Linked DNA regions of Homo sapiens. The protein of the gene in region 2 purifies or fractionates together with the protein of the main gene of each other region. This does not show direct contact. Each region holds a gene or a part of one and is shown on either strand. Other genes may lie near its edges. The genes, in order: BEND3, RIOK2 and DCK.

Evidence for each region.
Region 1: the proteins of RIOK2 (region 2) and BEND3 purify together in Homo sapiens (affinity purification with mass spectrometry; one large-scale study listed by BioGRID and IntAct). This does not show direct contact.
Region 3: the proteins of RIOK2 (region 2) and DCK purify together in Homo sapiens (affinity purification with mass spectrometry, with the first as the bait; one large-scale study listed by BioGRID). This does not show direct contact.

Annotation. Positions count from the first base shown.
Region 1 is NC_000006.12:107,105,464-107,109,121, reverse strand, and holds part of BEND3 (BEN domain-containing protein 3), read left to right. Parts: intron 1-2,959; exon of another isoform or gene 2,960-3,045; intron 3,046-3,658. UniProt on the Homo sapiens protein: Transcriptional repressor which associates with the NoRC (nucleolar remodeling complex) complex and plays a key role in repressing rDNA transcription.
Region 2 is NC_000005.10:97,160,209-97,163,307, reverse strand, and holds the end of RIOK2 (serine/threonine-protein kinase RIO2), read left to right. Parts: intron 1-82; coding exon 83-247; 3' UTR 248-2,441; downstream 2,442-3,099. UniProt on the Homo sapiens protein: Serine/threonine-protein kinase involved in the final steps of cytoplasmic maturation of the 40S ribosomal subunit. Involved in export of the 40S pre-ribosome particles (pre-40S) from the nucleus to the cytoplasm.
Region 3 is NC_000004.12:71,024,570-71,028,110, reverse strand, and holds part of DCK (deoxycytidine kinase), read right to left. Parts: intron 2,296-3,541; coding exon 2,180-2,295; intron 1,447-2,179; coding exon 1,356-1,446; intron 1-1,355. UniProt on the Homo sapiens protein: Phosphorylates the deoxyribonucleosides deoxycytidine, deoxyguanosine and deoxyadenosine. Has broad substrate specificity, and does not display selectivity based on the chirality of the substrate.

The DNA.
Region 1 (3,658 bases), on a different chromosome or scaffold from region 2:
TAAAGTCAGCCCTCTTGGCTGGATGTGGTGGCTCATACCTGTAATCCCAGCACCTTAGGAGGCTGAGGCGGGTGGATCTCTTGAGGCCAGGAGTTCGAGACCAGCCTGGCCAACATGGCCAAACCCCATCTCTAGTGAAAAATACAAAAATTAGCCAGGTGTGGTGGCACATGACTGTTGTCCCAGCTACTCGGGAGGCTGAGACAGGAGAATTGCTTGAACGCGGGATGCAGAGTTGCAGAGAGCCGAGGTCGCACCACTGCACTCCATCCTGGGCAACAGAGCGAGACTCCATCTCAAATCAATCAATCAATCAACCCTCTTAATTTTTTTTCTACCTGTGGCCACCTCTCCTCTTGTCTGATTTTCAGTTATTTCTGACTAGTGAAACACAGTTGCATCAGTATCAGGGCATTGATTGCTCAATTGAATAAGTCATTTACTGGCCTTTTCTTGTATGTCAGGGGCTGTTTTGGTTTGAGCATGGAGCTAGCAGAGCGAAGGACTGAGGCTTGCTTAGGATTGGGGGTGCAGTATACACCCAACTGCCCCGAACCCTAATCAGCTTGTGTGGTCACAAAATAAAACACTTGATAAAATGGGAAGTGCAGCGGAAACTCAGCTTATACCTCCTAGGAAAATTAGTCACCGTTGTGCAGTCAGTCACATGGCTGGATGCTGGAATGTGCGGTCCCTCCTTCCACCTTGAGCCTCAGCTTCTGCATGCCAAGGTTAATACGCAGAGTCTCCTGTGAGCCATGTGAGGAGGTAGCCCTCCACGAGGTTGGGGAGAACGTAAGTGGAACTTCTTAGCTGAGGAAGATGGCACATTTACTCAAGACTCAGAAGACGCAAGTGACCAAAGATTAAGACGCCAAATCACAGGCGCGCGGGCAGGGTTGTGCGGCTGTGCTTGGCTGCATGCGGAAGATGAGGTTGTGCTCTGACTGAATAAGGAAGGCAGCTACAATTACAGCTTTAGAAAAACTCTGGGGAAAATTGCCCTGGTTTTGTGAGGACTGGTATTTTTCAAACTGCATTTGCAGATGTGCCTAAAAATAAAAACAAATTGCGAACATGTCCTGCAAGTCCCTTGGGCAGGATGCCACTGCCAAGGGGGCTGGGTCCTGAGACCCTTGAGGCTCCCAGCCGGTCCTGTGAACCCAGAGACCCGCGGCACCAGAGTGGATGGCATGGGAACATTCCTCCTGTCCTCAGGGAGAGCATTTTATTTGGTTTCATCCCCCTCCCTCCAGTTTCTATGTTTCATTGGAAAGAAAAGTTACTAAACCTTTTTAATCTTTTAAGCCATTTTATTTAATTTGCAGTTCTTAAAAATTCACTATTAAAATGTACTTTAGGCTGGGCGGGATGGCTCACACCTGTAATCCCAGAACTTTGGGAGGCCAAGGCAGGTGGAACTTTGAAGCCAGGAGTTCAAGGCCATCCTGGCCAACATGGTAAAACCCCGTCTCTACTGAAAATACAGAAATTAATCAGGCATGGTGGTGCCCACCTGTAATCCCAGCTGCTTGGGAGGCTGAGGCAGGAGAATCGCTTGAACCCAGGAGGCAAAGGTTGCAGTGAGCCAAGATTGTGCCACTGCACTCCAGCCTGGGCGACAGAATGAGACTTTGTCTCAAAAAAATAAAAAAATAAAATGCACTTTAAACATCTTTTCCTTAAAAAAAAAAAAAGAAGCTTTATAATAGGTAACTTTGAGTGCTATGTGTCAGACACTTTCTCCTTTGTAGTTTTCACAAAAACTTTTTGAGGTGAGGTAGATGTGTCCAGCTCCTATTACAGAATACAGCTTGGATGGGTAGGTAAACAGCTGGCCTGGTGTTAGATGCTAAATATTTTAACTCGGTTAAAAACCTTTTTGGGCTGGGTGCAGTGGCTCATACCTGTAATCTCAGCACTTTGGGAGGCCGAGGCGGGTGGATCAGCTGAGGTCAGGAGTTCCAGACCAGCTGGGCCAACATGGTGAAACTCTGTCTCTACTAAAAATACAAAAATTAGCCGGATGTGGTGGTGCATGCCTGTAATCCCAGATACTTGGGAGGCTGGGGCAGGAGTATCACTTGAACCCGGGAGGCAGAGGTTGCAGTGAGCCGAAATTGTGCCACTGCACTCCAGTCTGGGCGACAGAGCGAGACTCCGTCTCAAAAAAAAAAAAAAAAAAGCCCTCTTTGAAAACTGGGCTGGGTTAAGGGTCAGGTGTGGTGGCTTGCATCTGAAATCCCAGCACTTTGGGAGGCTGAGGCCGGAGGGTTGCTGGAAGCCCGGAGTTTGAGACCATTTTGGGCAACACCTGGAGACCCTGTCTCTACAAAAAATAAAAAATTAGCTGGGTGTGGTGGCGTGCACCTATAGTCCTAGCTACTCACAGGCTGAGATGGGAGAATCATCTGAGCCCAGGAGTTCAAGGCTACAGTGAGCTCTGATCATACTGCTGCACTCTGCCTGGGTAACAGAGCAAGACCCCCATCTCTGGGGAAAAAAAAAATGAAAAAACTGGATTAAAAGCCAGGGTTTCATGCAGTTCCATCTGACTCCAAAGTTTAGTAAAGAATTCCATTTTTTGGAGGGTCACCTGCACTAATTCCTGCCTTGGTCACAGACTGGCCCATCTGGCTTGTTGACTTGCTCATGCACCTGCACCCAGCTCACAGCTTAGCAGGAAGAGGGAAAGAAAGCTGGGAGGTCATGGCCCATTCCTCAGTCCCAGCTTCCTTGGAAGGCTGGAATGAAGCTCTCATGCCGGGAGTCTCCTGAAGTCCTTCCTACTCCCTGGTCTCAGCTGCATCCCTTGGGCAGCACAAATCACCCCACCCCCGCCCCGTTCCCTATCTGCACAAGAAGCAGTGCTGGTGGGGACTGTGTGGGTTGACATATGTAACACTTAGAACATGAAGCCTGTGCCACATGAATACTAACTACTGTCCCCCTCTTCTAGGTTTAATTTTTAGAAGTCAATGTCACCTGTAGCAGAGAAGTTCCTTGAAATCAAATCAGACATATGGCAATTGTGAAAAGATTGAAGTAAGGTTTAGGTCTTGGTTAAATTTTTAAAATCCTTGAGTTTGTTTTGTTAATGACTGAGCATATTCTCTCCACTTTACCTTTTGTGTGTGGCAGGGGCCACACAGCCACCATCCCTATTGTTTCAGGTTCCAATCACATTCCTGTTCTGGGGCCCACATTCTCAAGGGAATCTTCTGGTAGTGAGAGTTTGCTTCAGTTTGCATCTGGAAACAGCTCTTAGGGGTAAGGGGGATTTGCCCCTGAGTGGCATGAGGTCAGGGCTGCTGGGGCCAGGTCTTCCTGGACTGGCACCTCAGCACAGTGGCGAGGACATCTCTGATCTAGCAGGGTAAAATCCGGAGTCAGCTGGCTGGAATTTGAACCTCCAGGTTGCAGGAAGCCCAAGTACTTCCCATTTCTGGGCCTGCCGCTTGTCCTGTGTGACTCCCCGGCCCACAGGCCTCTGGCAGCTCTGATTAGGCTCACGCTGCTGTCCCAAAAGACCTGGTCTGTCTGCTCTCTCCACAGCAACTGACTATTCAAAGAACTTGATAGAAAGGTACCCCGGGCCACTCCCAGCCGCCTATGGGTTCACTAGAGAATGTCCTTTTGGAAATCTATGGGCTGGACA
Region 2 (3,099 bases):
ATATATAAATAGAACAGATATTAGCAGTGTACTTTTTGAAATGGTTCATTATCAGTAATACTAATTTATGAAATCTTTCCAGGAACTGGTGAAACAGAAGGTGAAACGTCAGTTGACAAAACAGCAAAAATCAGCTGTCAGACGTCGATTGCAGAAAGGAGAAGCAAATATATTTACCAAGCAACGTAGGGAAAACATGCAAAATATCAAATCAAGTTTGGAAGCAGCCAGCTTTTGGGGAGAATAATATATTTAGGATCTTGGATATGTTTAATATATTTTTTAAAGTTACTGTAATTCCTTTTTGAGCCCTCATTTGTCTTTTTTGAGCCAAGGCTATCATATATTAATAAATAAACCCTCTTTCATCTATAAATTTGGTCATTCAGTATGTGTCTTGCAAAGAATAATTACCTGCCAAAGCAGTCCATTTTTTTCAAAGTAATTTGGGTAACTACAGTTACGTAACTTTATTAGAGACATTTGCATATTTTTAAAAATCTAAATAACATTTTTGTTGTTTTCTGTTTGTTGAGGATGATATGCTACAATGCACATAAAGCAATTAGAACAATGTTTAGCACATTCTTAAGCATTCAATAAAACATGGCTATTAGAATCATAATGATTCTGAAATTCTGCTGACAATTTGGTTGCATTTTATTTGGCAACTGGAGGACTTCACTGTCTTATTTTTCTTTAGAAGTAAAGATAAGCCTTTGGAAGTAAAGATAAGCCAGTGATGCACAATTTGCTTAATTAATTGATTAATAATCTGTTTTGTGCCACTTACATTGGTAATGTGGTCATGAGAATGGAAACTTACTTGAGATAGTCTACCACAATTTTTACAGTTGGCAGCTTGTAAGCAGGCCTGAGTAGCAGAAGAGTTAGGGGTTGGGGAAGGTGGAGTAGAATGAGGAATGAAATGTTCTTTCTCATATGCTTATTATATAAGTGGGTCCGGAACATGTTCTCACCTCAAGGTTAACAAATACCTAATGCAGGAAAGAAAATACATAGCCATGGTCCCTTCCTCAAGGACTTTATAATTCAGTGAGATGTAAAGATGAGTGCTTAAGTGTATGCACCTGATTATTGTCTCTTCATTGCCGCATAAGTCGGAAAAGGGGATCACTTGCAGCGAAAAATGGCCACTAGATGGCAATATCACCCCATAGTCACCAAACAGGATTACTTGCATCCCTAATTATGTTCTACCAGAGGGAATATAGTACAGACTTTTCCAAGATTGATAAAGACAGCAGATTCCCTTTCACCTTTGCCAAATTAACTCTACTAGCTATTTGCAAGACCTGTAATTATCTAATAAATTGGCTTAAATATATAGAAGCTAGAAAATGCCAATTCCTCTTCCCTCAAAAGTTACCTGACATTCAAATATTTAAATACCCTTGCTTTGCATTTTAGATATATCTTTGAATTCAGGTATTCATTTTGTATAATCTCTCAACTTTTAAGCATTTTTATAATGTAAAGTTGAAAACAGCTTAATAGAACCACAGAATGTTTATTTTGGAGTCATTTTCTTATATTCAGAGCTATGAAAGCAAATTGGGAATAAAGCCTTATCCTGCTCAGCTTTACCTAGTTGACTCAGTTGACTTTTGAGTATCTACTACATAAAAAGCCCATTACTATTAAGAAACTCAAGACAAACATGATTTTTACCTTTAATAGCCTAAGATTTCTTGTGGGCCAAGGAATTAATTATTCCAATCAGAAATGGAGGCCTTACCTCATTTGGGCAAAGATTAGTGCTAGTTATTGAAGATTTACTAATAAATGATCTGTTAAGGAATTTAGTTTTTTTTGGATATGTTGTTTTGGTTGTTGAAAACTAAGGTATAATTATAATAGTTATTTTTTGAAGATATGTTTGGCTAGCCATCAATTAGAAGTTAGAGAGTTTGTCCTAACAGATAAGCTATAACCCTCACATTTTAAAACATGCATAGTGAACAATGAACAAAAACAAATTCAAAATTTTACTAATGTAAAGCTGTATATTGTGATTGTTAAAACACTTTTTTTTGCCTAGGAGTTCCAGATTTAAATCCTGGTTCTACACTTCCCAAACCTCAGGTACCTTCTGTGGCCTCTCTAACCTCAATTTTTTTACTTGTAAAATGGGGACATTTAATAGTATACCTCAGTGTCGTGAAGACTAAATGAAGTACCACTTGTAAAGAGTTTATTACAGTGCCTGACATATACTGTATGGTTAGTACTGCTAAAATGACTTCTTAAGGTTACCAAAAGGAAAATTCCACAAGCTGACCACCTTTCCTATTGTGATGGTCACTGGTATTTCAGCTATGATCCTTTGTTGTGTATTTATCCAGACTGAAAGATGTTTTTCTAGTAACCATCTTGCATCGTCTTAGTCTCCCCATTAAATAAACTTTTCCTACAAACTATGCGGTTTATATTTGTGCTAACTTTGTGGTATTGATAGCCATTGGTCTGTTCTTTGGCACATAGCTGGCTATCTTTGAGGTTTCTCCAAAACCATAGATGTTTAATGGATACTAATCAGAGTTAGTGCAGCTCGAGATAATCATTCTTTTAGCCAACTGCTTAGTAAATTTTCTGACAAAATACATAGCTGTCTAATTAAAAAACTCTGCCTGATGCTGCCTTCCAGGTTGCTACTTACAAAGGATAGAGGGATGAGTTATGTTAGGTTCTCAGAGCACTTTCTGAAGTGTAGGTTTATTTCACTGTCACAGATTCAGCACTCTGGGTGGGCTACAGTTCGCCATGCCCAGTCTTCTTTATCCCTCCTTAGAACATCTCCCTAGAGAGCATCAGGCCATATCTTAATTCGCCCTTGCTTTAGTTTATGAAGTACTGGAGCCATCTTATGCACCTGTGTAAGGAGGCTGGAGATTAAAGTTCAGAAAAGCCATGGGTTACACAGTTGTGTAATAACCAGGAGTATGGGGATAACTCCAAAGCTACAATACTTTTATAGAGAACTGTGTCATTCACAAAACCTATGTTGTTAGATTTTAAAGACTGCAAGTTTTTCTTTTACCTTAATATTGTAAATAATGACATTAAAAATATTAACAT
Region 3 (3,541 bases), on a different chromosome or scaffold from region 2:
TGTCAGTGTGTGCAGAAAATCATGTAAGGAGTCAATGAACCTAGCCTACTGACCATAATGTAAGAATATGCTTGTTCTCTACATATTCTAGGCTACTCAATAATTCTCAAGAAACAAAAATTATTGCCTTGTAAAAATACCTTAATAAGAAAGTCAACTGCTAGCATTATTAATAAAAGTAAATATAATAATGTGAAATGATTCTTAGTCAAAACAAAGAAGTGTTAGATAAAATTAAAAAGTGATTTACAAAGTCAGTTAAATTGATGGTTGGCTGTTAATACTTAATGCTGACTTTTCATTTAATAGTATTGTAAGTGAATTTATCCTATATTTTTAACATCATTAGTAGTATGAAGAGGTCATTGGAATTTTCCAGATAAGCTTTAGTTCATACCATGGGAAAAACAACTACATGTATACGCTACAGTAGTTACATAAAATGTCAAGATTTTCAAAATCCTTGATATATCCCTTATGAATGTCAAGTCTCTATTAAACAGCAGACATTATGCCACAAAAGAAAGGAAAAATCAAATTTTTCTCAAAACTAAACCAAATTGTGCTTTCTTCTTTATAGCTTAATCACTCAGTTATCAACATGGGTATAGGGATATTTGTTATACCAATTCCCTTACTATTCTCTCTCAAATATTCATCAATAAATTCTCACCCATTCCCTTTATCAATATGGGCACCACTCACTTAACAGAATATAGTCAACTCCCAGTGATTTGGGCAATAAATGAACTGTGATTAAGACAATGACTCAATGATTAAGTAATGTCAATTAATCCTTGACATGATCCCAAATGAAACTCAAAACTAAAATCCCTTAATCTCAAGACTTTGGCCAACATAAAAATAGATGAGATCCATATCCTGTAACTTTAAATATCCTCCATATTGAATTTAGTTGAAAAAGATAAATTTAATTTCACAAGCAGTTTATTATTAAAGTATCTAAAGATTGGTGGTGTAGGGAAGAGAGGAAGAAATGGGGACAAAGCAGAGAAAAAGGGGGTGAGAAAGAATTTTTGTTATTATAATTTTACCTATCCTACAGATAGAGGCACTAAAGGATAAAAAAAAATCCTTATTTTATTTTTATTTATTTAATTTTTTTCTAAGATCTGTCAGATTCTGAGATTCCGAAGGATCTTTATTTTAGCTCAGGCCACAAAGCTAGAATTTAGTCAGGACTGGAATCTTAAACAGTCCAAAATCTTCTAAAGCTCTTAACTGTTTCTTAATGTAACTTTATGGAAGCTTTTCTGTTAGAAAATTGTTTTCTCACCACTCAGTACACTTTTTTAGAAAAAACAAATATTTGTTTGTAGTCTGTCTAAATCTACCTTTTCAACCAGACTTTCATATTTGTCTTTAAAGTCTTCATTAACATCCAGTGTTAAGATAGGCACCTCTTGAAGATAATCGAAGTTGGTTCTGTTTAAAAAGAGAGATTAATAAAATAATCAGAAATTCAACAAAAAAAAGAGAGAAACATTAAAAATTCATTCGTATGTCCTTGGAAAATCAAAATGTTGTCAATCATTTACACTAAAGTTACTTTGCAGTACTTCATCTGGCAGCCCCTTCTTTCTCATCTAGATTTACCATATGGAGCCCAAAAACTTAGGTACAAAATATATACAGCTGGGTACTGTAACATATGATTCTCTTCAAAAACAAATAGCAGTCAATAAAGTAGGAATTTCTGCATTTTTAAAGATGAGAAAACTAAAGCTCAGAATTGTCATTCTGAAGCTCAGAGGCTATCCAAGGTCACACACCAGTAAGACTGGACTTGAGCCAAGATCTGACTAATAACAAAGTCTATCCTCTCAACAACCACGCTATACAATCTCCCAAGTCAAAATTCTTTCTGAAAGAGTACCTAAATAATGTTCAGATATATTCCTACTTTATCACTTAAAGTGAAATTTCACATATTACGCTATCAATACCACCAAGGGATACTAGTTATAAAAACTTTAAGTAAATAGGATCTCATTGCAATCAAGAGAATGAAAATCTATACCTAGTTCTGGAAGATACCAATAAGCAAAACGACTGGAAATTTTACATATTGCTAGTCATATCTTCCAAATTTTAGATTAAAATTTAACAAAGGTAACAAAGGTATTTAAAATGAATAGTAAATAAAAATAAGTCTTACTTCAGTGTCCTATGCAGGAGCCAGCTTTCATGTTTATAATGAAGCTTCTCTAAATATTCAAGAGGAATGCCTTGCTCTTCATTTCTTCCCCGTAAATATATTCTATGTAAGCATGTCTAAAAGCAAGTAATAAGAGATGGAAGAAAAAGGCAGGGAACAATTATTCTTGTCTGCTGCCATCAAAATTTTCTTTTCTGTGTCTCTCTACTCACGCTAGCCAAAATCTCTACTTATTACTTCTTAAAAGCTGAAATAATTCATTTTTCCCTCCATGAGCTTTTCAGCCACTTGGTGGCTCTAAGCCAAGCAGTACTTTCAAAAATAAGCCTATAAATTTTTGGTATCCATCCACACATGAAATATACTAAGTTTGATAAAAAGGAGAAAAAAATTAAACATCTACTTAAAATGTTCAGAGACAACAGCTAAAAGGTATGCCAATCTATAAACATAATCTTACTTTGCTGTTAACCAACCTTGATTACAAAATATCTATGTTCAGTTCACATAAAACCACTAAAGACAGTGGTTCTTAATGTGATGAAAACTCTATATCAGCACAACCAAAACAACTTTGGAATGTTTTATGCCTGTCCTATATCTGCATTATCAAATAAGGTAGCCACCAGCCACCTGTGGTTTTTAAGCACTTGAAATATGGCTAGTGTGGTGACCAAGGAACTAAATATCTAAATTTTATTTAATTTTAATAACCCTAAATTTAAATAGCCACATTGGACAGTGCAGCTCTAGATAACGGTCCCCCAAAAGCACACATACATAAAAAATTTCGTATAATTTGTGGGGGCTCATATACCATGAGAAACTCTTCATGCATTCCAAGAAATAAAAGCCTCCAACCTAAATGACATGCATAAGACCATGGCAGCATACAAACTGTGTTTCAAACTCTACTCTAAATTCTCTTTTCAATAATTAAACAATCCTTTCATCCAAAGATATCAGAAACAATACTGATGAAATTATCAGTATCAAAATGAAATTATTAGTATTATTTATGTTTTTGGTGTTTGTACTATTTTCATAACTTTAAGAAACCTTTTCAAAAATAAAAGTGAATTTCAAAATTATTATATTTGCTAAATTCTAGCTTAATAGTGACTATAAATGTTTCAAGCAAAATGAAATTATTCATATTCCTTATGTTCTTTTTCACATTTTTATTTACTATTTTTGTAATTAAAAACAAAAAAATTCAAAAATAAAAGTGAATTTCAAAATTCACTTTTGAAATTGCTAAAAAATTGCTAAATCCTTGCTTAATGAAGAACAAAATCTTTACTTAATGAAGAACAAAATCATCCGTTGGAATAGGAAACCTAATTTCTTTGAAAACCCAGC